Linked DNA regions of Homo sapiens. The protein of the gene in region 2 interacts with the protein of the main gene of each other region in a biochemical or structural test. Each region holds a gene or a part of one and is shown on either strand. Other genes may lie near its edges. The genes, in order: IGF2BP3, MKRN2 and CSDE1.

What was found.
Region 1: the proteins of MKRN2 (region 2) and IGF2BP3 form a complex in vitro, tested with the Homo sapiens proteins (one study listed by BioGRID).
Region 3: the proteins of MKRN2 (region 2) and CSDE1 form a complex in vitro, tested with the Homo sapiens proteins (one study listed by BioGRID).

Annotation. Positions count from the first base shown.
Region 1 is NC_000007.14:23,339,110-23,350,700, reverse strand, and holds part of IGF2BP3 (insulin-like growth factor 2 mRNA-binding protein 3), read left to right. Parts: intron 1-2,966; coding exon 2,967-3,101; intron 3,102-4,638; coding exon 4,639-4,761; intron 4,762-6,847; coding exon 6,848-6,983; intron 6,984-8,511; coding exon 8,512-8,637; intron 8,638-11,591. UniProt on the Homo sapiens protein: RNA-binding factor that may recruit target transcripts to cytoplasmic protein-RNA complexes (mRNPs). This transcript 'caging' into mRNPs allows mRNA transport and transient storage.
Region 2 is NC_000003.12:12,576,747-12,584,464, forward strand, and holds the end of MKRN2 (E3 ubiquitin-protein ligase makorin-2), read left to right. Parts: intron 1-5,061; coding exon 5,062-5,206; intron 5,207-5,369; coding exon 5,370-5,507; 3' UTR 5,508-6,967; downstream 6,968-7,718. UniProt on the Homo sapiens protein: E3 ubiquitin ligase catalyzing the covalent attachment of ubiquitin moieties onto substrate proteins.
Region 3 is NC_000001.11:114,724,490-114,736,080, forward strand, and holds part of CSDE1 (cold shock domain-containing protein E1), read right to left. Parts: intron 10,035-11,591; coding exon 9,953-10,034; intron 9,629-9,952; coding exon 9,500-9,628; intron 9,369-9,499; coding exon 9,243-9,368; intron 8,328-9,242; coding exon 8,115-8,327; intron 6,160-8,114; coding exon 6,019-6,159; intron 5,934-6,018; coding exon 5,769-5,933; intron 3,332-5,768; exon of another isoform or gene 3,231-3,331; intron 2,602-3,230; coding exon 2,494-2,601; intron 1,898-2,493; coding exon 1,722-1,897; intron 845-1,721; coding exon 732-844; intron 1-731. UniProt on the Homo sapiens protein: RNA-binding protein involved in translationally coupled mRNA turnover.

The DNA.
Region 1 (11,591 bases), on a different chromosome or scaffold from region 2:
CTACTGTAGCCCCAGGGCCAAGGCCAGGGCCCTGCTACATAGAAGGATCTTTTATTTGTCAAATGACTAAAATGACTGTATGTGAATTATGTTTGAAGCCTTTCATGTGTATCTAAGATACTTCTCAGTTCTCATGCATTATATGTTGTTTTGCTTTAGAAACCATACTGTTGTACAGTATGTGGATATTTTTTGACCCAAAGAAGCTTGGTGACAAACTCTTCCCCCCATACCTAGCTCCGTAACGTGCTACGAGGCACATCCTGTTACTACTGTATTTCCTGAAGAACCTGTGAGTGTGCTGGGAAGAAGAGGTTGTATCCAAAAATACCATTGTGCAAGCCTTGAGCCAGCTACAGAAGTGGCAAGATTATTTTTCCTTTTAAATTTAGAAAGGAGAATTCTTTTTTTTCAGTGTGATCCAACGAAATAAGCTTAATCTTTCTCTAAAAGTTAGAACTGCACTGCTGTGTATACTTTATGTGTTTGTTCCAGCAGGCCTAAGAGGACATGCATGTTCATCATAGGCACCATGCCTGCATTGGACTAGCTGACCCATTTCTCATGTAGAACCAAAAAGAACTGTACTGAGTGGTGGTCCATACCCACCTGCTCCCTGCAGTGGCATCTGATCCTGCCTTCCCCTGCTTTGAAGCAGGAGATGTTGGGTGCTGGTTACCTGAATGCAAAATTAATCGCCCTGACCTCATCATGTAGGAGTGGGAAAGACAACTGGACCATAACCTAGTCAGTCGGCCTGGCTTTAATCTTAAAATTTAAGGGCTTCTTGCTTCCCTTGATCCACCGTTACCTGCAGAAATTCATTATATGGCTTCCCTTCCTTCTCATGTAGCAGATTAGAATTGTTCCTTTTCGAGCTACTCATTTCCCTGTCAGATGAAAGAGCTGTGACTTAAATTGAACTGTTTGTTTTACTTAAGGCAGGAAGATGGGGATAGGGGAAGGGAAGCAATTTTTGTTATATCCGATGATTCATTTGCAGAGCTCTGCCAGTGGATTTAATTAACTCTTGACATTGAAATTAGTCATTATCAGAACCTCGTTTCTGGAATGGTCTCAGAGGGCCATTCTAATCTCCAAAGCCACATTCCTTTCTCTCAGGGGATCGGAGCTTAGTAATCCTTAGCACAGTGAAAGGGTGAAAATAAACTGCAAAGAGGGATGCTAATGTGTTGCTGGAAGACAGGCATCCCTGAAAGTGACTGGGGATTGAAACAGCAGCCGGGAAGATGACTCCTAAGATTGGGACTGTTATCTAAGACACTATTTTTTTATTAGTTATTTTTAGGTAGCCCTTAATTTGTTTCATGCCCTTATTTTTAGTTTTATCTTTTACTCTTGAGGTAAATCTTCAGATTTCAACCAAACATTTAGGAAAATGAAAGCCAAATCTTGATTTTATTGGCATGATCAAGTGGTCACTCTCATGGCCATGAGTTATTTAGCCCTTTAAGTGTTTGAATGGCCAAAGGAACTCAACAAATACTTAATTTTCCCAAAAACACATATTTTTGAGTAGCTAATTTTCTTTCTTGTACTTATTAAAAAATGGCAGGCTTATTTTATATTTAATTCAAAACATATAAATATGTAAATTAAAAAGTTACCATTCGTCTCACCTGGGTAGCTGTTGGTAAGTTGGGGATGTATCTCTATAGGATTTGTTGCCTGTATCTACTAACATGTGTGACTTTAAAAAAGAAATCATGTCATGATGTGAATTGCATTATTTCACTTAAGGACTTTTTACTGTGTTGGTACTTGTAATTTTACCACATTTTCAAAAACATCTGTATGATATGAATATACTGTTATTTAACCATCTCTTCCCGCAATTAGATAATTCTAATTTTCTATCTGTTAGAAACGGAACTTTCCCATGCCAGTGGTTCTCAACTACAAATGATCATCTCTCTGCCCCAACCCCCGTAGACATTTGGCAATGTCTGGAGACATTTTTAGCTGTTAGAGTTGAGAGAGAGGCATGCTACTAGCATCTAGTAGGTACAGGCCAGGGAAGTTAGTAAATTTCCTACAATGCACAAGACACCCCATCCACAACAAAGAATCTGGCCCAAAAAGTCAGTAGTGCCAAGGGTAAGAAACATCACTCTTGACCCATGTATGAGACTATATCTGTAGATGTTACCAGGAGTAGATGTTACAAGAAATACAGTTCTTGAGTCACAAGGTGCTCAGCATTTTGCTGACCAGTTTGCTCCTACCAAAAGTGTTGAGTGTGCCTTGTTACCCATCATCTTGCCCATATTTAATTTTTTCTATCTCAATTTTTGCAAGTCTAGAAGAAAATGACATTCTTTTAGCTGGCAGACATATAATTACTAGTGAAATTAAACATCATTTTGAGTTTATTGGCCACTTGCTTTTCTTGAAGTAGAATTGCCATCTGTCCAGGTTCCATTCCTATCACTGTTCGTTGCAGACTTTCCTCTATCAAGGAGGCAAAATGTGGGAAGAACCTTGCAAAGGGGAAGCAGATTGGTGAAATCTGCTCATCCAATGAATGAAGAATGATATACTGTGCAGAATAAGCAGTTCAACTTGGCTTATGGGATTCCAACTCCTCTCTTGGCATGCCCTCCAGTTCCTATTTGTTTTAGAGCAGATTGAATCCAGGCTCTTTGTCATGAGACATTTGTTCTGTGGCATCTGAAAGGAAGCTGTAAGCACAAACAGCTTGGGTAGAATGAAAAGATGTCCCCGCTTGGTTGGATTGAGGAAAGAGAAAGGGGAATGTTCCTAGAATTAAAATTTGCCTCTTAAGGCATTAATGTTGACAGCTTATTGAAAGTTTATGCTCTTGAGGGAAGTGAGTCATCTGCTTTGCCCTGAAGCCCTATGACTTTGCATTTGGTAATTACAGACTCCACTGTGAATACACGCTTACTGCTCTCGTTTTCCTCTCTGCTTGCGCCCACTATCAGAATCGATGTCCACCGTAAAGAAAATGCGGGGGCTGCTGAGAAGTCGATTACTATCCTCTCTACTCCTGAAGGCACCTCTGCGGCTTGTAAGTCTATTCTGGAGATTATGCATAAGGAAGCTCAAGATATAAAATTGTGAGTAAAGAAGATTGTCCTGTGAAAGAGGTTGATATTTGTGCTCTTGTATTTTTGACATCTCTGACACAATTCTTGGGAATTGCCAACAAACAGAGGGAAATGATATCCTGATGAGCTACAGTGGTTGGCACTGTTGATCTGGTTGTGAAGTGTATGTCTTTTAATATTTAAATATTTTCATTCACATTTGAACATAGGCGAGTGGTGATAACGGGGAAGAGAAATGCAGCTATAGAAGAAGGCAACTTGGGGAACCTAGGACCAGGAGGTATCCTGGATTAACCCAAAACAGGAGCCCCAAATCTTGACTCATCCTTTACTCGGAGCTCATTGGAGCTCTGTTCTTGTCCACTGCCTGGCCCCACCTTGGAGCAGCAGGGAGTGTGGAGGTGGGGAAGTGCCTAAGTCTCTTCTAAGGCAAACTGGAGATTTATCTGGGTAATGCAGGCGGGAACTCTATTTCTTCCACAGGAACTTTGAGTGAAGGTTGGGTTCTGTGCCACGTTTAGCGTACAGAACAGCGCTGCACTGAAAGTAGAATCGAGAGTAAGGCACTGGAGTTAGTGTGGGGACCTCATTACCAACCTTAATTTGTAGAGAACTTTAAATATGTTTTAGTAATATTATATGTGGGTGCCATATCATAAGAATGTAATTATTAAAGTAAAAATTTTAAAGAAGAATTATTTTAGTATAGAGAAAAATAGGCCTGGTGTGGCGACTCATGCCTGTAATCCCAGCACTTTGGGAGGCCGAGGCGGGTGGATCATGAGGTCAAGAGATCAAGACCATCCTGGCCAACATGGTGAAACCCCGTCTCTACTGAAAATACAAGAATTAGATGAGCGTGGTGGCATGTGCCTGTAGTCCCAGCCACTTGGGAGGCTGAGGCAGGAGAATGGCTTGAACCCGGGAGGCGGAGGTTGCAGTGAGCCGAGATCGCGCCACTGCACGCCTGCCTGGCGCCAGAGGGAGACTCTGTCTCAAAAAAAAAAAAAGAAAGAAAAAGGAAAAGCCCACCATCTATTAACCACAATGACATTTTAAACAGTTTTATATATATATGACTGGGAAATTCAGAAAGCTACAAAATGAAAAGTGAAAGCTCCCCTTCCTGTTCTTATGCCCTTCCCCCAAAGTGTAACCACTGTTGTTTCTTCTGTTTCCTTCTATAAATTATGCACATATCTCCAGGTGTATATTTGTACTGGATGGTACTGTTTTTTATTTGTACGTTGTGTTCTGGTAGTAGGGGTTTAGGAATATGGTTTTGAGTAAGAGACTCCATCACTGAAGATATTTCCTGAAGTGAATAAAATAAGAACTATTTTAGAAGTTAACTTCTGTATTTTTTCTCCCCTTCTATTCATGCATTGCTAGAATGCTGGCCAATTGTCAGCAAGTTTTAAGCTGTACCTAACACAGTGCTTCCCAGATGGTAGGTAGGAAGTAAATGTTTAATGAGTGAATATTGTCTTTTTACCCACGAATAGGTTTACTTATTCTAATTTTATGGCCACTTTTCTATTTACAGCACAGAAGAGATCCCCTTGAAGATTTTAGCTCATAATAACTTTGTTGGACGTCTTATTGGTAAAGAAGGAAGAAATCTTAAAAAAATTGAGCAAGACACAGACACTAAAATCACGATATCTCCGTGAGTGCTCCTTTGCTTTTGAATAAGAAAACTTTCCAACACTGTAAGCTGCATGTTGTGTATTGGGCTTAGCTTCCCACTTTACAGCTGCTTCAGCTAGCCTGTGCTGCCGTACTTACACATGGTTTCTCAAATACAGCTTGCTGCCTGTTAGGTTTCTGACCCGTATTGAAAGCATTATCTGCTTCTGGCAGGAGGAACCAAATGCTTTACATTCATGTTTTCTAAAGCAGTCTTAACTATGTTTTATGACATTTATTCCCAAAGTTGGAATATATAACCCAGTTTATTATCCATTGTCGTGTAACGCATTATCCCAACATTTGACAGCTTAACACAATGTGAACATTAATTGCTCAGCTAGTTTTTGTGGGTTAGGAATGCAGGAGCAGCTTAGCTGGGTGGTTCTGGCTTGGGGTCTCACAATGCTGCTGACAAGTTGATGCTGGCTGTTGGCAGAAGGCCTCAGTTCCTCCCACATGGGCTTCTCCACAGAGCTGCTTGAGTGTTCTCAAGACATGGCAGCTGTCAAGATGGAAACTGCAATGTCTTTTATGACATAGCCTCAGAAGTTATACTCTATCATTTTTCTAATGTTGTTTACACAAGTCAGCCCTATTTGGTATGTATGTGTGGGACTACAGATAACTGGGTGACAGGAATCACCTTGGAGGCAGGCTACCACACTTAGAATCTGTGGATGCTCTGAAATTACGTGGAAAGGTTTTTCTGAGGGTGGCCATTCTTAGTTTCACTCAGAGTACTCAAAAAGGTGGGAAAAGATTGATGAACTGAGGAAGAGTGGTAGGGGAAAGACTGCACGGTGTTTGTGTACAAGGAGTTTTCAAAGGAGGTAGTAAGGAAGCAGGAAACTTCTGTTTGGTTGTAAAGAAAGGGGGAAAAAAACCCCACAAAGTGGTAAATTCAATAAGTAATACTACTTTGTCTTAAATTTACCCCCAGAAAGGGGAGAGTTTTAAAAGAAAAAAATCTCAAAAGTTATTCTAGAAGCAGCTATTTTTAAAACTGTAATACAAAATGCTTGGCAGGGCCAGGTTGAGACTGAATTAGAATTATAGACTTCTTTTTAAAGTAGTCTAAGAGAAATAGTCTTCATTATACAAATGTTTACATTTTTAACAAGTTTGAGGAAAATGTTAAGGAATAACTTCCCATTCATCTGGCTCAAGGTTAGCCTGTGACATTATACTAGTAGTGAAAATGAGAACTTCAGGAAGATGAAGGAGATTTGTACCAATAATCCATATCCTCTCAATTTATGTACTTAGTTCTGTTTTCCATGGCACATGTCTCCCATTGCTTTTCCTCTCAAGGCTGTTGACCAGCATAGGCTTAGGTGTTTTCAGGTATGATATTCAGTGGCTTTTGAAGGTTCAGCAGGACCTAGGTCCCGCAGGGAGTTTCTGAATATTTCTGCCACTATCTAACGTTTTTGTTATCTAAATGGCATCGGTGAACCATTTTAAATTTTAGTCAAGATGGATTGATATTCCTCCAGCCTACTTCAATCTAAATTCTAAAGAAACTGGTAAAAACTAAGTTTAGACACAGGAATTCTGGCTTGTGTTTTTGGAATATTTCCATGCTTTCTCCTTGCTTGGTGACCCAGAAAATGCAATTGCACGAGAATGCCAATTATGCCTAGAATTGGTTAATACAGACTAGGAACATACTTATGAAAGGTTATGTACTTAGGGTATTTGGTTTCCTCAAAAACTATACATCTTTCCAGTCATTTTTTAATTCACTGTTCAATTGTGAAAATGGTTCAACTTTAAGCGGTTGAGAAGTAAGCTTTATTTAAAATATGGACTTGATTGAACTATATGTATCCAGTAATCGTTAGTTGAGAAAATGGGAGGGCAAATATTTTCTTCTCTCTTGCAGCTTTACAGTTTCGGATTTACGTCTTTTGGGGCTTACTCATTTCCCATCATGTTTTACCACCCACTTTTACATATTACCAGGCTCCACAGTTTGTTTTTAATTGCCGTCTGTGGCTGAATTATTAGCTGTCTTCCTCCAATTTTCATTCTTTTTCTTTCCCTTCTTTTTCATTCTGCAGATTGCAGGAATTGACGCTGTATAATCCAGAACGCACTATTACAGTTAAAGGCAATGTTGAGACATGTGCCAAAGCTGAGGAGGAGATCATGAAGAAAATCAGGGAGTCTTATGAAAATGATATTGCTTCTATGAATGTTAGTTTTGTTATGAAGGGCATGTCTTTATTTTAACAAATAGTTAAAACAATGTTTTTAACTGCATTAATATTGAATTCTTTTGTGGCATTATCACTAGAAGTAGTTCTAGTTGATTTTTAGCACCTCAGCAAGTACCCTGGGATAGTAGGGAAGATACTGGCTTTGACATTAAGCTTTGCTGTCTCTGTGACTTTAGCAAATTATTCAGTCTTTGAGCCTTAGCTTCCTTCTGTCTGAAGTAAGGCTAGTGTCTACCTACAAAGGTTAATATAGTACCTCTCTTACAATGTTAATTTGAGAGAGTTTAATATAGAAGAAATGTTACATGAACTGGATTTGAATCACAGCTGAACCATTTATGAGCTGCAGCTCTCTTCTCTTATATGATTTACTCAGTCTCTCTGAGGCTCAGTTTACTCATCTGTAAAATGGGACTACTGCCTACCTTGCATTCTTATTAGGATTACAATAGATATAATGCATATAAAAGTTAATGTTAAGATTACAGGTTTAAAACTTGGTTAGCCATATAAACCTTGGAGATACAAGAATTTCAATTGATAAAACAATCTGTGTAGTGCATCTGAGGCTATTAAAGCAAATTGCTGACATTCCTTAATCAGTGAAATGGTGCTGAAAATGGAATACTTCAAAAGCCTGTCTTAAATTTTAAAGTAAATGACTTTAAAAAATAATTTTTTTTCAATTGGGCCAGTCATCTGAAACACAAAACCTGAGACGAGGGAAATGTGCAAATACTGCGTTTGTGAGAAGAGCCTAGAATGCTAGCCATTTTACACCCCACGTGACTTCTTGCCAACCTGCTTCAATTCTCACTGCTTGGCTCCAAATGTTCTGGAATCAACTGGGATTAAATCTAACCCCCTTAGGCCTTTTAAAAAGATTTTCAAGTACACTCAAATCTCCCTTCCACCGTCTACATTACGTCCTCAACCCTTATAAAATTAAACAAATTAAAATACCCTTTCTGGCTCCTATTTCCATTCCAGTGATATGTTTACTTGCAGTAGTTACATGGGGATGGGTCCTGATTTCCAGAGGGCTCAACTTTGAGGCCTCTAGACCCATGGTTGCTAAGTTTTACCCAGCAAGTAAAGATCTCTTAATAGCTGGTTTGCTTTTCAATGAACCAATCTTACTTGATTACCTCTTCAACTCTGATACATTGCTTTTTGTCTATATTTAGTTTGCCCACAGCATGCAGAATACGGTTTTGTCTAAGTCCTGTGGGCTAGTCATAAGGGAAAGGAAAGCTTCCCTTGAGATATCTTAATGCAGCTGTGGACCAAGGAGGGGGCAAACCAGCACACAGATTTTAAAATACCAAGGGATATAAACAGATGTAAACGATGTACTCAAGTAGAGTCCCATGGAACATCTGCTTTGAGTTATACAATCATTTCTTTATTAGACAAGAGATCAGTTTGAATACTGTCACTTAAAAATGCTCACTTTCCCTTGATTCTTTTAATTGTCAAATTAAGGGGCCTTTTTACTGTTGCAGCTTCAAGCACATTTAATTCCTGGATTAAATCTGAACGCCTTGGGTCTGTTCCCACCCACTTCAGGGATGCCACCTCCCACCTCAGGGCCCCCTTCAGCCATGACTCCTCCCTACCCGCAGTTTGAGGTAAGATAACTGGCCTTGGCTTTCTTTGTGATTGGGCAAAATCTTAATGTAAACCTAGTCCCCGCGTGATCATCTGTTTAGATGCCAACATATGCTCTCCAGTTCTTGCTAATGGAGCCTTCTTATTTGGCCCTTTGTGGAGTAGACATGGGATTATTTTGCAGTTTTTGGATAGCGGGGTTGTCAACATGTGTTTTCAAATATCACAACAAAAGTTTGGGACTTTGAGGTGGCAGGGGAAGAAACTTAGTAATTGTTTTTCTTATTTAAAAAAATTTTTTTTCTTTTTTCTTTTTTCTTTTTTTTTTATTCTAAGTTCTCGGATACATGTGCAGAATGTGCAGGTTTGTTACATAGGTATACATGTGCCATGGTGGTTATTTAAAAGTTTTTGGAGACACAGTCCCACTCTTTCGCCCAGGCTGGAATGCAGTGGCACAATCTTGACTCACTGCAACCTTCACCTCCCGGGTTCAAATGATTCTCATGCCTCAGCCTCCTGAGTAACTGGGATTACAGGTGTGTGCCACACCACACCCGGCTACTTTTTTTGTATTTTTAGTAGAGACAGGGTTTCGCCATGTTGTTCAGGCTGATCTCAAACTCCTGGCCTCCAGTGGTCTGCCTGCCTCGGCCTCTCAAAGTGCTGGGGTTATAGGCGTGAGCTATTACCTGGCCAGTAATTATTAAATACTAAAGGAAAAGATTTTTTAAAGGCTTCTTTCATCTTTGTCACCTGAAGTCAATGGCTTTGAAAGGTCAGGAGTGACTCTGTGTGTTTTCCATGTTGAGTGTACTTTTTTAAACCAAAGAGATAAGATAGTTTTGTGCACAATTATATTGTGTGTGTGCGTGCATACATTAAGCAGATGTTTATTTTGTAAAGAGGTAGGTTATATAAGAAATAAATCTTAGGCCAAGTGCCATGGCTCACACCTGTAATCCCAGCACTTTGGGAGGCCGAGGCGGGAGGATCACCCGAGGTCAGGAGTTCAAGACCAGCCTGGCCAACATGGTGAAACCCCATCTCTACTAAAAATACAAAAAATTAGCCGGAGTGGTGGCAGGTGCCTGTAATCCCAGCTACTTGGGAGGCTGAGGCAGGAGAATCGCTTGAACCCAGGAGGCAGAGGTGGTAGTGAGCTGAGATTGCGCCATTGCACTCCAGCCTGGGCGACAGAGCGAAACTCTGTCTGGGAAAAAAAAAAAAAAAAGAAAAAGAAAAAGAAAGAAATATTTTATACTTGCTTTTTAAGAATAGCAGTTTCCTTGAGGTCAGAAATAGGAGACTAGTGATGGTATGAAAATAATCGCAGCACAGCAGACACCTGATGGAATAAATTATTTTGAAAGTAGTTAATAATTCAGTTGCATTATCGATAATCGGAGGTATTCATGTGACATTCTAGGATCTTCCTTCATGAATTTGTTTTGACATCTCTCCCTTTTTGTTTGGCTCACTTACTTAATATTAATATTTTGAGTGATACCTCTTACACCAATTTGGGGAAATGTCCAGGTGGAATAGGTTGGTGATTCCACTGTATTACTACCTAGAATAAATATGTAGAGTAAAATGACATTGAAATTGTACAGAAAATACAGATGGCTCAGATTGTCCCCCTTTTATCCTTTTAAAAATGAAAATTTCCTTTTCCTGTCCTTGAACCCACCAAACTGATTGGGGTTCTAAGCAGTTGCCCTCCTGCCGTGTGTGTTTCTGCCTTTACTGTCAGCAGCATCTTGTCTCCCCTGCAATTCACCTGCCGTTTCTAGTATGTTTTGGCCTGGAAATCATGTAACAGAATGATAGCCATCAAAATTTCAGCTACAAGTGAAGTGTGCATAGATTCATTACGTGCCCCCTGAAGTGGCTGGCATGTTTTTACTTTGATGCTAAAGGGGACTGGTAGAAAGAACCCTGGAGTCAGAGCCCAGGTCTGGCCCACTGCCTCTGACACAATTTTGTGTCACTGAAGGTCAGACTCCTTGGCTCTGGATTTGTTTTCTCACCTGTATAATAAAAAAAACCTGAACTATAAGAATTGTGTCTAAAGCCTTTAAGGTCACACATTTCTAGTTTCTACAGAATTAAATAATATGAAAGGTTTAAGGAGGAATAGGGGAGAATGAGCCTAAAATAGGAATCTGAGAGTACATCTAGGGACTTAACTTTGAACATGTCCACTAGTTTATGTGTGTGTCATAGGATTGGTTTAGGGCAGGTGTGTCCCCAACACTTCTGTATAAAATGACACTTACTAAAAGGTACAATGAGCTGATCATGTGACGTAACTCTGTGCTAGGAAAGCTCGCATCTAACCCACATTTCTGCTGGTTCCCCTAAATTAGCTTTCTCTCTGGGTGGGTTGCTTAACCTCTCTGTTTCATTCCCAGTTTGTAAACTGAGGTGTCCCTTTAACTCTTTTTTTCTCTCTATACTGGTGACATGTTCCAATCAACAAAGCTTTTCACATTACAAGTGATCACAGAATAGAACATTCTTGGACATCAGTCTTTTACACTTACATGGATGCTTCAGTAGCCAAAATTCCTAGAGTGAACTTGTAGGTAACTATTTTTAAAATATGTAGATAAGACTGCATATTCTCTGGATTTAGTCATTTTTCTGACTTATGGTATAGTTCTGTGTATCAGGTTCCTATGTTAGAAAAATTAAGAATGCTTTGAGAGAAGTGAGATCATATTAAGAACTTATATTTCTCCAGCACTTCTACAGTCTTAAATGTCTGAATGACTTAAATCAGTGGCAGTTTTGTTTTAAGAATGGGAGGAGGAGGTCGGTGATGTTTACTTAAATAAAAGTTGAGCCAAGAGTAAATGTAAGGAAGATGTCACTGGAATAGGTCATCTTGCTTCTCCTGTCATTTAAGCTAAATCAAATAGGTGCAATTAGAAGGAGCAAATGAGAACAGAAGTTGCAGAAGCTGCCA
Region 2 (7,718 bases):
TGCTTTTGAGTTTCGACGTGCCCCTGCTGCCTGCCTGGCTCTGCTGTCAGCCCGTGTCCTCGTTCTCCTTCCCAGGAGTGTGGTCTTAGGGGCCTCTTCCTCTCTTCCTTCTCTCAGGCACCATGCTGGGCTCTGGGATGCAGCAATGAGCAAGGACATGGTGATGTGGACCTGTTTAGTTTTGGTGTTTTTTTTTTTTTTTTTTTTTTTTCGGTGAGATAGGGTCTCACTCTGTTGCCCAGGCTGGAGTGCAGTGGTGCAATCTCAGCTCACTGCAGCCTCAGCCTCCTGGGCTCAAGCAGGAGCCTCTTGAGTAGCTGGGGCCACCAGTAGTGTGCGCCACCATGCCCAGCTAATTGGCTAATTTTTTTTGGTAGAGACAAGGTTTCGCCATGTAGCCCAGGCTGGTCTTGAACTCCTAGGCTCAAGTGATCCTCCTGCCTCGGCCTCCCAAAGTGCTGGGATTACAGGCATGAGCCACCGTGCCCGGCCTCAAATGTTCCTCTTTATCCTGGTTGTCAGCATGTTGATATTTTGCCTAGGAGTGGAGTGGTTTTTCTCTACGCTTATGTCACTCCCCAAGATGAGCGAAATTTTAGCTATTGTTTCATTAACTTTTTTTCTGTCTTGTTTTTTTCTTTTCCTGCTGGGACTCTACTTCCGTTTATGATAGTTTTTTTATATTGTTCATAGATCTCTGGGGATATTCATTCTTTTTCAATCTTTTTTTCTTTTCATCTCCTTGAACATAGTTGTAGCAGCTACTTTGAAATCCTTGTTATCTTGAAGTTGACCTCTGTTGTCTTTTAAGAATGGATCACATTTTCCTGATTCTTCGTATGTCTAGTAATTTTAGATTTTATCCTTGACATTGTAAATATTACATTGTAGAGAGACTTAGGATTCTGTTATGGTTTATCTGTAAAGTGATGATTTTTTTTTTTTTGAGACGGAGTTTCACTCTTGTTGCCCAGGCTGGAGTGCAGTGGCACAATCTCGGCTCACTGCAACCTCTGCCTCTCGGGTTCAAGCGATTCTCCTGCCTCAGCCTCCCGAGTAGCAGGGATTACAGGCATGCACCACTGCACCTGGCCAATTTTTTGTATTTTTAGTAGAAACGGGGTTTCACCATGTTAGCCTGGCTGGTCTCAAACTCCTGACCTCAGGTGATCCGCCCACCTCGGCCTCCCAAAGTGCTGGGATTACAGGCATGAGCCACTGCGCCTGGCCAAGTGTTGCTGTTTTTAACAGGCAGGTAAATTGTTTGAACTCAAACCCAGGTAGCAGTTCAGATCTCAGTTCTGGTTTTGCATTCGTAGCTGACTTTGTCGCATTCCTGTGTGGTTTGGGAGTTAGTCAGATTTGGGCAGAGTTTATACACAGCCTTTGAGCACTTTTTCACAGGCCCCTTACTTTGTGGGATTGCTTCCTCACTTTCCAATGGCTGTGATTTCCTTGAACTCTTGTCTTTTAGTTCTTCAGGCCAGAAAGATTGGATTTCCCCTTGGAGTTTTAGCCACCCCATGTGGTTATGATTTTGGCCTGCTCCAGGATAAGAGCTACTTCTTTTTTTTTTTTTTTTTTTTTTTTTGGAGATGGAGTCTTGCTTTGTAGCCCAGGCTGGAGTGCAGTGGCACAGTCTCAGCTCACTGCCACCTCCGCCTTCCAGGTTCAAGCACTTCTGCCTCAGCCTCCCAAGAAGGTGGGACTACAGGCGCATGCCGCCACGCCTGGCTAATTTTTGTATTTTAGTAGAGACAGGGTTTCACTGTGTTTCCCAGGCTGGTCTTGAACTCCTGAGCTCAGGCAATCCACCTGCCTCGGCCTCCCAAAATGCTGGGATTACAGATGTGAGCCACAAAAGCTACCTTTTTTAAAAAAGGTAACTTAGCCTTTGCCATTGCTATTCTTCTTTGTGTTTACTCCTCCAAAGAATCTAACTGCGTTTGTTCATTCTCTGGTGCCTTCAGGTCTTCTTGAAATATTTGTGTTAAGACTTATCTGCAGGAGGGTTGGGTATGGCAGGCGTTTACTTGTCATACTAAAAGTGAAACTATGCATTACCTTTTTTAATGGTTCCTTTATGTTGCATATTAGTTTACTAAAGCTTGATTTTTTTTTTTTTTTTTTTTTTACCATTTTTTCCTCATACAATCTTCCTGTGTGTCCACAAGAGGGCAAGGCGTGGCAAGCAGAGGGGTCCCAGCTTGTAGAAAAGGGCCCCAGCCTGTAGAAAAGGGTCCCAGCCTGTAGAAAGGGGCTCTGCTGAAAAGCAGTCTGGAGATTGTTATTGCTATTTGGATCTTTCCTTGCTTTGCTTTCCTTTAATGACTGTGTTTTTTGCAATCCACAAACATTTACTGAGTACTCACTATGGGTCAGGTACCTTCTAGCTAAGCACCACTGGGGGATGTAGAGATTAGTAAGACAATTTCTTTTTTCTTTCGAGTCTCGCTCTGTCACCCAGGCTGGCAGTGGCATGATTTCAGCTCACTGCAACCTCCGCCTCCAGGGTTCAAGTGATTCTTCTGCCTCAGCCTCCCGAGTAGCTGGGATTACAGGTGTGCGCCACGACACCCAGCTAATTTTTGTATTTTTTTAGTAGGGATGGGGTTTCGCCATGTTGGCCAGGCTGGTCTTGAACTCCTGGCCTCAGATGATCTACCCACCTCAGCTTCCCAAAGTGCTAGGATTATAGGTGTGAGCCACTGTGCCCCGCCAAGTAAGACAACTTCATGGGAAACTGCAAAAGGGCAATTATGATACAGGTTTGCTGGTGACCAGTTCTTCATGAGGGACCATCTATCACAACAGAGAAAGCACTTGGATCCACCGGGGGCTGCCAGGGGAAGCAGCATGGGAGCCTGAACCATGAAGCAGGAAGCACCTGTCTGTAGGGGGAAGTGATGGAAGGACATGGGCACAGAAGGGTGTAGGTTTTGTGTCTGGGGGACACTGGGAGTGGCTCCTGGCATTGAAACAGGTGTGTAGAAGGATGTGGTGGGACCTACAGACTGGAATCTAAGGGACACTTGAATCCCAGTGTGACCATGGTCTTTAAGAACAGGTTGGGGCCAGGCGCAGTGGCTTATGCCTGTAATCCCAGCACTTTGGGAGGCTGAGGAGGGCAGATTGCTTAAGTCCAGGGGAGACATAGGGAGACCTCATCTCTTTAAAGAAAAAAAAAAGGTTGGGAAGCTCCTCCGTGCTGCTCTGAAGGTGGAAACTGGTGGGAGTGGGAGGGAGGCCAGTGAGGAAGTGGCCCTGGCAGGCAGGCCCCAGAGGCTTCCACAAGTGTGGGAACCCAAAGGAAGGGGAGATTGGGAAGTGATTTGTAAACAGAATGAACACAGTTGGGTGTGAGAGCCGAGGACACAGAGTGAGTCAGAGTGAACTGGAGGCTTTTGGCCTTGGTGACCAGATAAGCCTGGGGGAGGAAAAAGAGTAATATTCTTGTGAGAGTGGGGGACCAGTATATAATGTGTTTGACCTGATCGAGTTCATAGCCAGTGTGCTAGGATGCTCTGGAGTTGTCCAGCAGGCTCTGGTGAGAGCAAACTGCTCACGGTCATTTGAAGTCCGCTCAGAACTCCAGGCAAGCAGGGGCCTGGAGGATGTGTCGTCCACACACCTGCTCTCCAGCCACCTGTGCTCAAATCAGATCAGCTGGCCAGGGAGCTTGTTCTCTCTCCCCCCACCCTACCCCCCCGCCACCACCCCCAGTGAGACGAAGTCTCACTCTGTCTCCCAGGCTGGAGTGCAGTGGCACAATCTTGGCTCACTGCAGCCTCCACCTCCTGGGTTCAAGCAATTCTCCTGCCTCAGCCTCAGCCTCCCGAGTAGCTGGGATTACAGGTGCCAGCCACCACACCCAGCTCATTTGTGTATTTTTAGTAGAGATGGGGTTTCGCTGTGTTGGCCAGGCTGGTCTCAAACTCCTGACCTCAAGTGATCCACCCACCTTGGCCTCCCAAAATGCTGGAATTACAGGTGTGAGCCACCACACCCGGCCAGAGGGCTTTTCTTTATGCTGCTATGAAGCCGTCCTCAGAGAACTTCACCACCGGCCTGCGGCCATCCCATCTGACAAGACGGAAAACCACTGGATTCAGGAGCCTCCTTTCCCTGTTCTTGTCTCCCGCTGTCACACACCCCAGCTGCCCCTGACAGCAGCGTGCCCTTTCTGTTGTTTGGCTTTATTTCTGTGACTTTCCCCTTCCTCTGTACTCCGAGATGGCCCTCTGGATTCTTGGGTATCTTTTTTTTTTTAACTTCAGTTTGGGATCCTTTATGATTGGATAAACCAGAGTTCATTTGAGCAAAATGGGAATTCATTTGATTGAGTTTCCTTGGGCAGGGTTCTTAACATAGAGGTCTGTGGGGAGAATGGTAGAATTAAGAGAGAGGGAAAACATTTTGAACTGTTTGGTCACTGTATGCTGTAGACCCATGTTTTATGCATTGAAAAACACTGTTCAGAGAAGGGGTCCAAAGCACATAAGGCGTGAAGAAGCCCTCCCTGGTGCCGAGGTTGGAGACAGGAAAACTGGAAGGAGACCTATGGCTTTAGGCAGTTGCTAAAACCCTCTGCTTTCCCTGTAGCCACCTTGACAGCACTGCGGCCAGGAGGAAGGGGAGAGTTGGCTTGGTGGGGTACCTAGGGAACTTTGAGCAGAGACAAGTGGCCCAGCTTCAGAGCTTAGTGCCCAGAGGAGTGACCAGGCCTGGCTTAGCTCTGTGGTGACCCAGGAGGTGCTCTGGAGCTGCCGGAGGGCCTGTGGAGCACTGCAGTCTCCACACAGCAAGTCCCCAGGCAGGTTAATATCCTTTGCAAGGCTGCAGGTAAGTGGGGATACTTCCTATCCTGCTTGGAAATCAGAATCCCAGCTGTGTGTGACCTGAGACAAATCACTCAACCTCTCCCAGCCTCAGCTGCCCCACCTAGAATGTGAGGCTGACCTACCTCTGGCGTAAGGGTGGTAAGGATGGAGGCAGGCAGTGGCCCAGTTTGGACCCCTCATTTTCCCACCAGCCTCTTGACTTTTTCTTTCTGCTTTTCAGGAAAAAAGCCTGTAAATACTTTGAGCAAGGCAAGGGGACCTGCCCATTTGGAAGCAAATGTCTTTATCGCCATGCTTACCCCGATGGGCGGCTAGCAGAGCCTGAGAAACCTCGGAAACAGCTCAGTTCTCAAGGCACTGTGAGGGTAAGGACTTTAGCCATCTCTAGTTGGGGACACTTAGCAGCTGTGGGCATTTCCAGGTACCGTTCCTGGCAGAGAAATGGGGTAGGCAAAAGAACGATCAAGGAACGCAGCCTTCCTGTTGCTCTTAGCAGTAACCAGGCATGTCCACTGGCTGTTTTTGCAGTTCTTTAATTCAGTGCGGCTCTGGGATTTCATCGAGAACCGAGAAAGCCGGCATGTCCCCAACAATGAAGATGTCGACATGACAGAGCTCGGGGACCTCTTCATGCACCTTTCTGGAGTGGAATCATCAGAACCCTAAAGAGTAGATGGTTGCCCTGCATCTTGGGCTCCATCGGCCGAAACTTTCCCAAGCCAGGGTGTGCGGAGCTTCCCTGTACTGCAGCCAAGGTGACGTGTGACTTGGATTTGAGTGGAGTTGGGCTTAGCCTTAGTCTCATTCAATCTCCATTATTACAGCCATGGGGAAGAGTGAAAGATATAAAGTAACCTAATTAAATGTATGGAATTGCTATTTTTATAGCTGATATAGTTACACCTCAAGCCCCTCAGGGGTAACAACTAACAAACACCCAAACTGTTTGGATTGATTGCTTTAAAAAACAAACCTGGCTCTTACCTTTGATCTTTTCTTCCCCAGAAATAGTAAACTTGCAGCTGCCCCTAATGCAGCATATTTTTCTTACCAAAGGAGTCTTCAGCCCTATAAAAGGATTCCTCTATAGTGTATTTCTCTAGTGTATTTAGTGTGTCGTCAAAATTTTGATTTATACAGAGCTTTCAAGAACACACAATGCAAAGTGAGCGCAGCATAGCTGTTAACAAACATACAACTTTTTTCTAGGGCTTTAAGGGTGGTCATTTTTTTCAAGTTCTCTCAAGTGTCCCAAATCAGGGTAGCAATCTTGTTGCCACATGTGCAGCAAACAAAGTGGAAGTATAGATCTTCTTCTCCCTTAGGGAGGCTCTTGAAGGAGCAGGAGGTACAGTACTGGGTAGCAGTCTGGCCCTCCTGTCGTCTGGTTGGTGTTGGGGCCTCCAGCCAGGGCCCTCTAGGGGAACCAAGCCTCTGCTCTCACCTGTGGGTTCTTGCCCATCAGGGTAATTGTATTGAGAACTCAAATATACGTGCACTTACATGTGTGGTTCGTACTCAAGTGATCTATTATCTAGCTGCAAAGCCTGGCTTTGATTTGAAATTTTGTAAAAATTTCATGGCACCCAAGGTTTCTGATTCTGACCCAGCAGTGGTCCTGAAGAGAGCTGATGGCAAGTCTTGTAGTCATTTTGATTTTAATTGAAGGGTGAGCATAACCTTGTGAACCAGCACTAGCTTGTTCCAAGCTGGAATTTATCTAATCTATTTTTGTGTTTAAAAAAGCTGTACCTACCAAATAAATAAATAGTTTATAAAATGTATTACTTAAGGTATTAGCTGAGTTTAGAGTACTTTCTGCTTAATTAATTTTTATACTTAACTCTTCAGTAGAGGTTTACAAAGAGTACAAAGGTTAAATTACAAATTCATTCCCAGCCTAGGCTCTGGGCACATTTCCTGTTCTTGAATTCTGCTCCTGAAGAGGGTGAACAAATGGGGCATTCAAGTTGTGAGCTCAGAATTACTTTAAAAGGAGGTAACAGCCAGCCATTACACCTAAATTTAATTTATTTTATTAAAATAACATAATTGAGGGACCATCAGATAACTGTATTTTGTCAGGTGCAATAAAAACAAAATTAAAACCCAAATCATCAAGAAAACCTGTATTCCTGGCTTCCTTGTATACACATGATGTGACTAGAGAAACAAGGCTGTTTGTTTGTTTGTTTGTTAGAGAAACAAGGCTGGCCCTGCGGCCCCGCCCCATAGGGGCAGCTCCTGGAAGACAAAATTCAGCATGATGGAAGACTGCTCCCTGAGAGGGCTGAGATGCGGATTGGCCGAGTGCCTTGCCTGGAAAACCATCCCAATGCACTGGACACCTTAGAAGCTGTGAAAGGAGGACGTGTCCCCTAAGAAAAGTTCCATAGTACCAAAGCAGGCTCCTTCGGGCGGCCAGAGTCTCGGCAGTCCTGGGCTGTTTGGTGCCTTATGTGCAAAATGTCTGGCGCTGCACCACTCTCTGAAGAAAGTCCCGCCTGTGACATGCATTCCTCCAGAAGCTGATTTCCAAAATCCCATGTGTCTCCACATCAGGGCTGGACTGCCTGCTACCTTACTTCCTCTAAATACTCATGTAGCCAACAGCTGGGGCTGGGCCCCTGCTTTTTGTACTACCATCAACATCCACTTGCGCATCTACAGAAGGCTGGGCCTTGAGCATGGGGAATGTGGGGAGGGAGCAGGACACACCAGCACTGCAAATGGCTTCCTTCTCCCAGGGCCCAAAGGGATAGAAAAGAAGGCAACATGAAGTTAAGGCCCTGTGAGCAGTCTAGAAGGTCCTTAGCAGCAGCTTCTCTGAAAACATGTGTTCTGCCTCTGGAGAAAGGGAGCAGAAAAGTGGTGCCT
Region 3 (11,591 bases), on a different chromosome or scaffold from region 2:
GATTTCTTCACTGCTGTATCCCCAGTGTCTAAAACATAACACACACTTAAGAGTTCAGATGAGAGCCAAAAATAAGTTGCAGGTCTTTTAAAGTCAGAGATCCAAGATCCTAAATTACAATTAATTTTTTTAACTTCCCATTATTTTTCACATTTAGATTCATTCTTCTTCAAAACAATCTTCTAGGGAAATGCCTCTCTTCCCTACTCCATGGTGATGTATACATATCTTGGGGTTATTTTTGTTTTTTTCAGACAGTCTTGCTCTGTCACCCAGGTTGGAGTGCAGTGGTAGGATCATCATGGCTCACTGCAGTCTCAACCTACCAGCACAAGCGGCCCTCCCACCTCAGCCTCCCAAGTAACTGTGACTACAGGCATCCACTACCACAGCTGGCTATCCTGGGTTTATTTTTCAAAAGAAGACAATGAATTGAAAATATAAAGCAAATTTCCTAAAATATCTAGGCCAATCCTTCTCAAACTTCAGTGTATACCAGAATCACCTAAAGGATTTATTAAAAAAGAATGCCCACTCACAGAGTTTCAGTGGGTATGGGATAGGGTCAGAGAACGTATATTTCTAACAAGCAACCAGGTGATGCTGCTGTTCTATGGAATCGCACATGAGAATGACTGATGTAGAATAATTAGGCCTCATCTCCCTCTACTACTCCATCCTTTATCTCCCACTTAAAAGCACAGGCTGAATAAGAAGTCACAATTTATTACCTGAGTGTGTTTTGTTCACTTTTTCTGCACTGACTTTGTTGCCTTTGCCTTTGGACAAGCTATACTCGACCATGTCCCCCAGTTCCAGGCTATCAACATCACCAGAGAACTCACTAAGGAGAAAGGAAATGACATTTAACTAAACATTACCATAAACATCAACAGTAACAGGCAGTCTTTATTTTACAGTAACAGTCATGGCATGGCATGCTTATTTACATTAGACACCATTTTAAGTAATTTCTATGTATTGACTCATTTAATCCTCAAGAATGCCCCATGAAGAGGTAACATTATCCCTAACTTCAGGATAATGAAACTAAGATACCAAGAAGTTATTTGGTAAAAATTACACAGGTATAAAGTGGCAGGGCCTGGATTCAAAAACTGAACTGTCTGGTTCTAAGAACCCTTACTTTCTATTTTTTTTTTTGAGACAGAGTCTCACTCTGTTGGCTAGGCTGGAGTACAGTGGTGCGATCTCAGCTTACTGCAACCTCTGCCTCCCAGGATCAAGTGGTCCTCCCACATCAGCCTCCTGAGTTGGTGAGACTACAGGTATGCACCACCATGTCAGGCTAATTTTGGTAATTTTTGTGGAGATGGAGTTTCACCGTGTTGCTCAGGCTGGCCTCGAACTCCTGGGCTCAAGGGATCCACCTGCCTCAGCCCCCAAAGTGCTGGGATTATAGGCATGAGCCACCACACCCAGTCAGACCCCTTACTCTTACACTACATTATACACCAAATGGCCAACTCTATGGTACCAACACAAAAAATAAGGTGGCACAGGCCTTTCTATTTCTTTTGGCCACAGGCTCTGTATATAGTAAGATCAGTGATTAACTTCAGTTTATATCTTGCCATAATTCTACCAATATGAAATCTGAACCTCAACAAGTATAATCAATCAATACTAAATGTTTTTTATTCCAACACCAAAGAATGGATGGTAAGTTAGCTGTAAAGTTCCTGAAAGTCACGCCTTACCTGTAATGGAAAAAGATTTCCTTATCATGATTGGCTGTTTCAATAAATCCAAAATTATCCTTCAGAGTTGCCACATAACCCAAGAGCCTCTTGGAGTTAGAATTACGACCTAAAAGTCGCACACAAGTTGCAACCTGCTGTCCAGGCCTCTGTTTGTCACTAATACTAAATTCAACCTGTGAAAATTAAGGATGCTCATTAACACCATATCACTTCCACACCAATCTCCTTAACTCAGAAAACAAGACCTATAACTCCCCCAGCGCATGCTTTTCATTCCAAATATCCTTTGTTATTACTTCAATGAAATTGATTTTCACCAAAACATTTATGTCTCATCCCACTTTTCACAAAGGATCAAACTTTTATCTTTCAGTCTGTATTCCTTATAGATTCTGAATTTCTCTAGAGGGCTATCCAAAAACCAAACATATTAAGTATGAGAAAAAATGAACAACAACGTAAAATCTTTGGTGTGCTTTTACTTTGATAATGTTTCAGTAGTAACTGTTTTAACTTTCTTACCAATAACGATTTTATTAAGCATGTTTTATCTAACGTTTAAACAGCTAGATTAACAAGGCTTTGATTAACAAAGAGCTTGACAGACACTTTTAATAAGCTGCTTTCAAATACAAGATATTCATGTATTTCTCTTAAACACAAAATATATTTCAGCAAAACTTGATAAAATTTGAAGAACCCATCCTGCAGGATTTATGATTAAGATGACAACTCTTAACCCTCTCTCGAATGAGCAGAATTATCTTGCCTTATCTCCTATTTGAGGAGAAGTAGATCCTTCCACATCCTTGGCTTGAAAAGCAATAGTCAGTTTCACCCCACAGTCATCATAAGCAATAATGCCATCCTCAGCCTCCTAAAGAGATACAGTCAAAAACAGAATGAAAACAATCTCAAGAACAAAAACCAATAAAAACAACTATAGTTCTTACATATTCTTGTGCCAAAGGATTGGTACAGCTGTAAAAATGTCTTATTCCAGCATTTTCTAAAAGATTATTCATATGAATAAAAGGTAGTCTTGCCTTAAGCCTAGCTCAGTCTGCTGTAATTTTTAATTGGTCTTTCAATCTTAAGAATCTAATTTTTGCTATTGAGGAGAAAAAAGCTTACTGAAAATGTTTAATACACCTGCGCTCCTCATAGCCAATCAGAAATTAAACTGGGCATGTTACTTCCAAGGAAGTGGAAATTCTATAAGGGCAAGAAGCTTTAGTATTTCCTAAAGAAGCTGCTGAAGTATCCTCTTTTAGTAGCACACAGCACCTTGCACAGTATTTAATATATAATGTCAATCAATATACTTAACAATGCAGGATAATTTGGTGTATGATCTAGCACAGTTCAAGTACTTGACATAAAGTAGATGATTAAAAATTATGACATACTAGTATTTCAACAATTTTTTTTAATACCAGACTTCAAGGAGAAACAACATTTCAGTCATCGTACGTGTAAGAATGATTAACTCTTAAAAAATCTAAGGGCTGGTCTGAAGGTAGTGGGTTATCTCGATTGTTCAGTCAGTTACAGATCGAACTTCCTTGTTCTCCTCTTTCCCCCCTTCTCACTACTGCACTTGACTAAAAAAATAAAAGTCTAAGAAAGTTCAGGTGTGTCGTATTGAATCACACCGTTAAGTAATGACAGTGTACAGCAACTACATAAATTATACTGATTTTATGGTTTCAACATTTCTATGAAGATAATGCCCATGTCCCTACTCTAGCCCTGACTTCCTTCCTAAACTCCAGTCCTCATTACAAACTACGATATATTCAAAACCAATTCATTTTCCTCTTCTACCAATCACATTCCTTCCATAACTGCTATATAATAATTTATTGAACACTTACAACATTACCAGGTATTATGTATTATCAAATTAATCTTGTACAAAATCATCTCCATAGTTTCTCTTTTCCCTCATTTTACAAATTGGGGAAATCTGAGGAATTAAGTAAACCTTACCAAGGTTACAAAACCCAGCGCAAAATAATCCAGAGGATTTGAGTTTGGTTAAGAACAATGTCAGTGAACTCAGGTCTGACTCCAATGTCATCAACTTTTCCACAACCAAACTCAAAAGCTTACTGTTCACCTTTTGCTCTTAACTCACCAACTTCAACATCAACAGCTGACAATATACTATACATCAAATATATTAAATAGAGATAGGAGAATCCCTGCCCTGAGGGAGTCCAGTGCAGCAGAGACAGATTCATTAACAGGTAAATGTTATATACTGTAAGAAGCATGATGACAGAGGATTTACTAGGGTACTGTTGGACTAAGAAAGAAAAAAAAACAAAAAATGGCAGGGAAAGTCTCACACAAAGGCTCTCTTCATCAAGCCAGTTTTGCCAGACACATTTGGGAAGCAGAGCATTCCAAGAATTAAAAGTTATTAAAAATAAGCCCAACTGAAGTGTATTTTTATTTTTGTTAACAGTATCATCTGTCACATGCGAAATTCCTATTATGAGCTAGGTACTTCGAGGGCTTTTTAAACTATTACACAATCATTTTTGAAATTTAAAAACTGAAGCTCAGAGGTGAAATAATTTCCCAAGCTACAGTAAGTGATAAGCAAGATACTAGCCTTGCTCTTTCTGGCTAATAGCAATTATTAAATTATAACATGACTTTCCAGTATCTCTCATGTACCTTCACTTGTCTATAGTCACTATCTGTGTGCCTAGTTCAAGGACTACCTTAACTATCCAAGTAATTTCATAGTAATCCTTTTCATCTTTTGTCTTTCTCCATCCCATCTAGGCTTCATATTGCTGCCATTACTCTCCCAAAGCACATACCTGATGTCATTATCCAAAAGAAATCTTTTCCTTGAAGTACAGAACAAGGTCTAAATTTTTTTTTTGGAGACGGAGTCTCACTCAGTCGCCCAGGATGGAGTGCAATGGCGCCATCTCAGCTCACTAAAAGCTCTGCCTCCTGGGTTCACGCCATTCTCCTGCCTCAGCCTCCCGAGTAGCTGGGATTACAGGTGCCCACTACTATGCCCGGCTAATTTTTTTGTATTTTTAGTAGAGATGGGGTTTCACCATGTTAGCCAGGATGGTCTCAATCTCCTGACCTCGTGATCCGCCCGCCTCAGCCTCCCAAAGTGCTGGGTTTACAGGTGTGAGCCACCGCACCTGACAATAAGGTCTAAATTCTTTAGAGCAGCAATCAACACCCTCCCAGTCTAGCTGGATCCTGATTTTTCATCCTTATTTCTCCTAACCTCCCTCACCAACAAAAACCCACACACAAAACCAAAAAAAAAAAAAAAAAAATTCCTGTCGGACTAGTTACTCATTGCTTCCTAAAGAAACCCTGAATTTTTCTCATCTATACTTTTACTCTGTGAAGAATGCTCTTTCCTGTCTCCATCTGTTAGTAAAACCATCACATACCCTACCAGTTAATTTTCACCAGAGCACTATCGCTGACCTTCAATAGCAATATTTTATATTCTATATGAATTACTTGTTTCTATAAAACTCTCAATTTGTTATTAACTTGAAAGGAGAATTCATCTCAGACATCTTTCTATTTCCTATTTAGTGGATTTTTCAATAAATGAAATTTAAATGTGTGAACTGAGGATACACCCAACTTTGAAAGTTTTAAATTGCCTGGAAGACAGTACTATCATTTTATATAACTAGTTCTCTACTTGGAATGAGTTTGCCTCCCAGGGGACATTTGGCAATGTCTGGACACATTTTTGGCTGTCACAATGGGAGGCAGGGAAAAGGGGTCAGAATACTAACTTCCAGTGGGTAGAGGCCAGAAATGCTGCTAAACATCCCATCCCCCACAGTAAAGAATCATTCATCCCAAAATGTCAATAATCCCAAGGTTAAGAAACCTTACTTTGTTTAGTTCACTGTTAATATGACAGAAATTCTGAAAGAGACAAACTTCCGCTGATTATATGTACTCTATTACTATGTGCTGTTAAAGCAGAAGAGAAATAAACAGCTACAAAAATCATTTGGATTATGCAAAACCTACCTTCTCTTTGCCTTTATTTGGGCTAGTGGTTTTAGGATTGGAAAAAGTGGCTTCTTTTTCTACCGTGCCCAGAAAACGGTGATCTGAATGGGAATGAAATGAAACCGTGCCCTTGGGAAGTTTTTTAATCCTAATAGCATGATTTCTTTGAGCAGAGAGCATATCCTAAAAATGATAAAACAAAATTAACTTTCAATTGAAAAAGAAAGCATCAAGAAACACCTCCCAACTTTTCTCAGAAACAACTCACAGGAACCACAGTAAACTCTACTTCATCTGCAATATGGAGCTGGTTCCCATCCAGAATTTCACTGAAGTGGAAGAACATACGAACATCACGATCCACACACTTGATGAAACCAAAACCATCTCTCATGGCAGCAATCACACCCTGAAACCCAAATAATATTTTCACTGGCTGTGAAACTTGTCAAGAAGGCAACATTCAACTTTACAACCACCATCAAGTTAAATTCATCAGGAATTTTCTCTGATGTGACACAAATACTGTATCCACATTTGAACTGTTCTCACTTAAGTACAAACTCATTGCTTTCAACAAAGTAACTTAACCTGAGCAATTTTCTAAGACTCTCCAATTGCTACTTCCTGGCAAATATGCACTAGAAAAAATTACCACATGTGAACGTAAACACGTGAACACAATGTATTTCATAAAAGCCCAAGTCTAATGACAATATAATCTCCAGAAACTTCACTAATTTACAGACCATAATTCCAAAGTAGACAAAGGCACTTCTCCAGTCTCTACCTCAAAAATTGCATGAGTTTAGGCCCAGGAAAGAGTTAAAATTTACATCTGAAGAATAAAATATATGCAATCTTTTCTCTTTTTTTTTTTTCCTTCTTACTAAATTATCAGCTTTGTAAGGCTTACTGTATCAAGAGTACCTGGAACATGGTAGATACTCATGTTTAATGAAACAATGAACACAAATTATCAATCTGCTATTGTATTACATACTACATATCTGCTCACTGCAGAAGTGATTCTGTAAGTTTTAAATATGACCTAAACAATATTTTGACATTTAATCCTTGCCAAGTCCTGACAGTAGCCAAGTTATATTTTCCATACCGTAAAGCAAAACAGATCTTGCCTTTGAAAATGTAAAAAAAAAAAAAAAAATCACACATTCAGACTTACAAACTTTTAAAGTTAAATACACTGTGTCAAATACAACCAGTTCTTCAAAGGCAAAGGATTAAAAAAAACTCAAGAAACTTAAATTTTCATTCAATGTACCCAGTTCCACTGGCAACACTGAGTTATAGTGTAGATGATATGATCCCAAACGTAACTAAATGCAAATTATGTCTGAGAAAATGAGTTCATAAAACATGTTTGGGAAAAAATCTGGTTGGTTTATGCCACTCCCAGACACAAACTCTTAAAAAACAATTTGTGAAGTTCTGCCAAAACAAAACCTTTTTGACTCTGGTTTAATTGCAAGCTTGTCCAAACCATGGCCTAGGACAGCTCTGAATGTGGCCCAACACAACAAATTGTTAAACCTTCTTAAAACATGATGAGATGTTTTTGCAATTATTTTTTTGAGACAGTCTTCCTCTGTCACCCAGGTTGCAGGGCAACGGCATGGTATTGGCTTACTGCAACCTCTGCCTCCTAGGTTCAAGCGATTCTCCTGTCTCAGCCTCCTGAGTAGTTAGGATTACAGGTGCCCACCGTCACACCTGGCTAATTTTTCTATTTTTAGTAGAGACGGGGTTTTACCATGTTGGCCAGGCTGGTCTTGAACTCCTGACCTCAAGTGATCACCCGCCTCAGCCTCCCAAAGTGCTGGGATTACAGGTGTGAGCCACCGTGCCTATGATTTTTTTTTTAAAAAAGCTCATCAGCTATCATTGCTGTTAGTGTATTTTATGTGTGATCTAGTGTCTAGATCATGGGTGTTCAATCTTTTGGCTTCCCTGGACCACACTGGAGGAAGAATTGTGTTTCCTAAAAACAGAAACCACTAATTAAATGTCTTAGGAAATAGTTTGGGAAAATCTACTTTCTACAATGATGAACTTGAATTTTCTTACTCTTCATATTAAGGGCCTGAGAATCACTGACTCTAAAAATATCTTAGTAATCCTGTCCAGATTTCCATTCAAAAAATTTTTTCACATATATTTCCAAGATAACTGCCAGAGATAACCCAGACTGACTCAAATGTGTATGATTCTTAATCACCTTAACAAGGTAAATGCCCATTAGGGTCATTTAACTTAAGAAAAATTTTAATTTAGTAGTATAAACTTGAATATAACATTGGCTTTCGCATATTAGATACATATCCAGTAATATCCAACACTTACCATTTCTCGGGCTTCATTAGTGAACTGAAATGTATTTGACAGAACTTCTATATTGGTTGCTCGCTCTAATTTGTCACGTCGGTCTGTTGAAATATTAAACCTAACATGGTCACCTTCCAGCAGGGTCACCTTGGATTTCGTATCTTTGTCTCCAAAGGGAAGTTCTTTAGGGATCACAAAGTCAACTTTGATGCGTCCTGGCAATGGGTCATTCTGATGAGAAGGAAAAACGATTTTAGCTGGAGATTTCTCATCCTTCCTAGTTCTAAGTCAAACAAGAAGAACACATAGTAAACCCATGTTATTTTTAACTTAGTTCCCTGAAGCGAAAAAAGGTGTTGACAACATAAGTCCAATGTGAAAGCTTCATGGTCTATGGTCACACGAGTCAACCATAAAATTACAACAATGCAATTAAGACCCAGCACTCTGGTACCAAAAGATTTTATTTAAGGAATTTTTCCAGGAATGACACCACTTGTGTCCTCACCTTCCCCACAAACTGGAGGGGTAGGGCAGGGGCAGAGGAGGGAACAAATGTACACCTGAACTGCAGTCTAATCCAATCAGGTGCTTTCCAATTTAATTAGCATTTTCTTCTTTGGCCTTTTTTCATCACCCAGTAAAAAAAAATACATATTTGGCTGGGCGAGGTGGCTCATACTTGTAATCCCAGCACTTTGGGAGGCCAAGGTGGACAGATCGCAAGGTCAAGAGATCGAGACCATCCTTGCCAACAGGGTGAAACCCCGTCTTTACTAAGAATACAAAAATTAGCTGGGTGTGGTGGCATGCCCTTGTAGTCCCAGCTACTTGGGAGGCTGAGGCAGGAGAATCGCTTAAACCCGGGAGGCGGAGGTTGCAGTGAGCCGAGATCGCGCCACTGCACTCCAGCCTGGCGACAGAGCGAGACTCTGTCACAAAAAAAGAAAAAAAAAAAAAAAAACACCATATTTATGAATATATAAATCTGGTTTCTCTTTTAGTTTAAATATACGTAACAAGAGGTCCTTAGTTGTTCCACTACCACATTATATTAACTGAATAAGATAAAATCTCAGTATACCACACCATATTATTCTATTACTACTGAGGCGAAATAGGACTCTCCTGAAAAAGATTATTTACCTGGTTTTTACTGGGTACTTTTGGGATAACTTTGGTTACAGTTCCTTCAAAATGTTCAATGCTGATATCTTCAAAAATGACTGTTCCTTGAGGCAATAGTCTGACATCTGTTGCAACTTCTTTACCCTAAATCAGAAGGGGTTGGAGGTGGTGGGGGGACAGAGGAAGGAAGAATCACATAATTTTAAGTGTTTCTTAAAAACATAAACCAACTCTGATCTTAAAAGGCCAAAGATCAAGTTAACTGACTGTCTTACATTTCTGTCCTTGATTGTGAATTCCACATCATCGCCAGGCTGTAAGGTTTCTAAGTCACCCTTAAATTCACTATAGTGAAAGAATATCTCTTTTACAACATCACCTCTTTCAATAAAGCCAAATGCCTCCTGAAGCAAAATAAAAAACCAAGAACATTATTACCACTCTGTACAAATTTATGATTACAACTTAAAACCAGTAATTTTTGTAAAATTATACTGTAGTCACAATAATATAATTTGGTACAACCTAATATTATCAATTAAACAGCCAATTTTAAAGAAGATAATGTATTAGCAACCAAGGAATTTTAAGAGACTACTTTTGAGGTTAACAGTGAAATATTTTAAAAGGGTAAGATAAAAAAGAAAAAAAAAAACAAAGGCTGGAGTTTGAAGTACAACATTTCAAGTGGCCAAAGAAAACTCAAGTTTCTCAAATTTAACACTTACCTTCATGGCACAAACTACTCCCTGACAGCGGGCTTGTTTCTTTTTCAACAGCATAATGTTGCGAGCACTTACAGCACCAGTACTAGAAAAAAAATAATTGCAGGGAGGAGGAATGAAACAGGGATTAAAAATGTATTGGCCTGCTTAGATATGAGTCTAAAGAAACTAGTTTCCTGGGGCTTTAAGAATTCTATCATCACTAAGAATAAATACAGGGTTTATGACATTTGATTATTTTCATATGGCTTTATATGCAAAGGACTTTAACTCCTTAGCCTTCTACGTTTGGCAAATATATATATAGGTCATCTTTCTCTGGGACTGTTGTTGGAAGATTTGCTTTTTTACAAACTTACACATGGGTGCGTGATGTTCTACTCTGTTTTTCTATTTCAACAAAATAACTGAAATAAAGCCACAAAGCGAATGCTACCAAAGGTGGGGAATACTAAAGTCTTATAAAGGTTATTCATTAAACAAACATTTGTGTAGGTATAATCTGCGGCAAAGTAAGGTACTGGTGATACAGAGATAAATAGGAGATGGTCTCTATTTTCAGTGAGTGCTAAATTTAGTAGCTATCTCATTAATTATTTCTGAGTAAACAGCCATAAAAGTTGAGTAAATGAAGTGACTTTAAGAGAACTTGCTATGCTTTTAAAAGTAATGATATCCACCTCCATTGGAGAATGGAAACAAGTTAGAGACACCACATGTTGCTTTTATGCCTTCATATTTGTGTAGCAGCGATGTAAATTCAATTTTGTTTTTAAGATAACATAGACTGTATAAGACATAATGGTACTGTTAGTCTAAATGTTTTAAGAAAAGACCTATACACCAAGCAATTACTTCCCTTAATTTTTCACAGACAAATAACCCAAAATGTGCTTTTTATTTAAAAAAATGTTACAGACTAACAAAGACACCAGAAAAATTCTACCTGTTTTTGTAACTTACTGCAGTGAAAACGCTTTAGAGTCAGATGGGAATTTAAATGCCTGCTATTTAAAAGCAGTATGAACATCGACAAGTAACTTTGTGAGAACTTATACGTCATTTTACAGATGAAGAAACTTACCAGGTAAGGCTGTTCTGAGATTAACAACTATATAAATTGAGGCCTTCAGACTGTAACTAATAATAACCACACCTACAACACAATCTGATTCCTTCAAGGCTTGCCAAGAAAGAGATAAGGTTCAAGGCAGATAATCCCAGACATGCTCTTAGGACTTTTCCCTCCACATGCTACTGGAAGGTACATTACTAGCACTTTCTCCAACTTTCTATTTTAATTTCCTTCTCCTCTTGCATCTCTCATCTCTCCTATGCCAAGATAAAAATAATATTCTCCCTGGGCTTTCTTAACTACATTTTCCTTAACTGTGTATGCTGATGAATTCTACAGCTCTATATACTTCCCCTATAGGCAGGAAATAGACCTTAGACTTAATAGGTCTAAGTCTCAGACCTATACACGCAACTGTAGATTTGATATCTCTACCCAGATATATCACAAACATCTCACACTCAAAAATTGCCAAGATAAGTATGATTCTTTTCCCACCTTGAACATTCTCCTTATGTCTCCTTAGCCCAGTTTATGGTACCATCATCTGCCCAGTAGGCCAGGCCA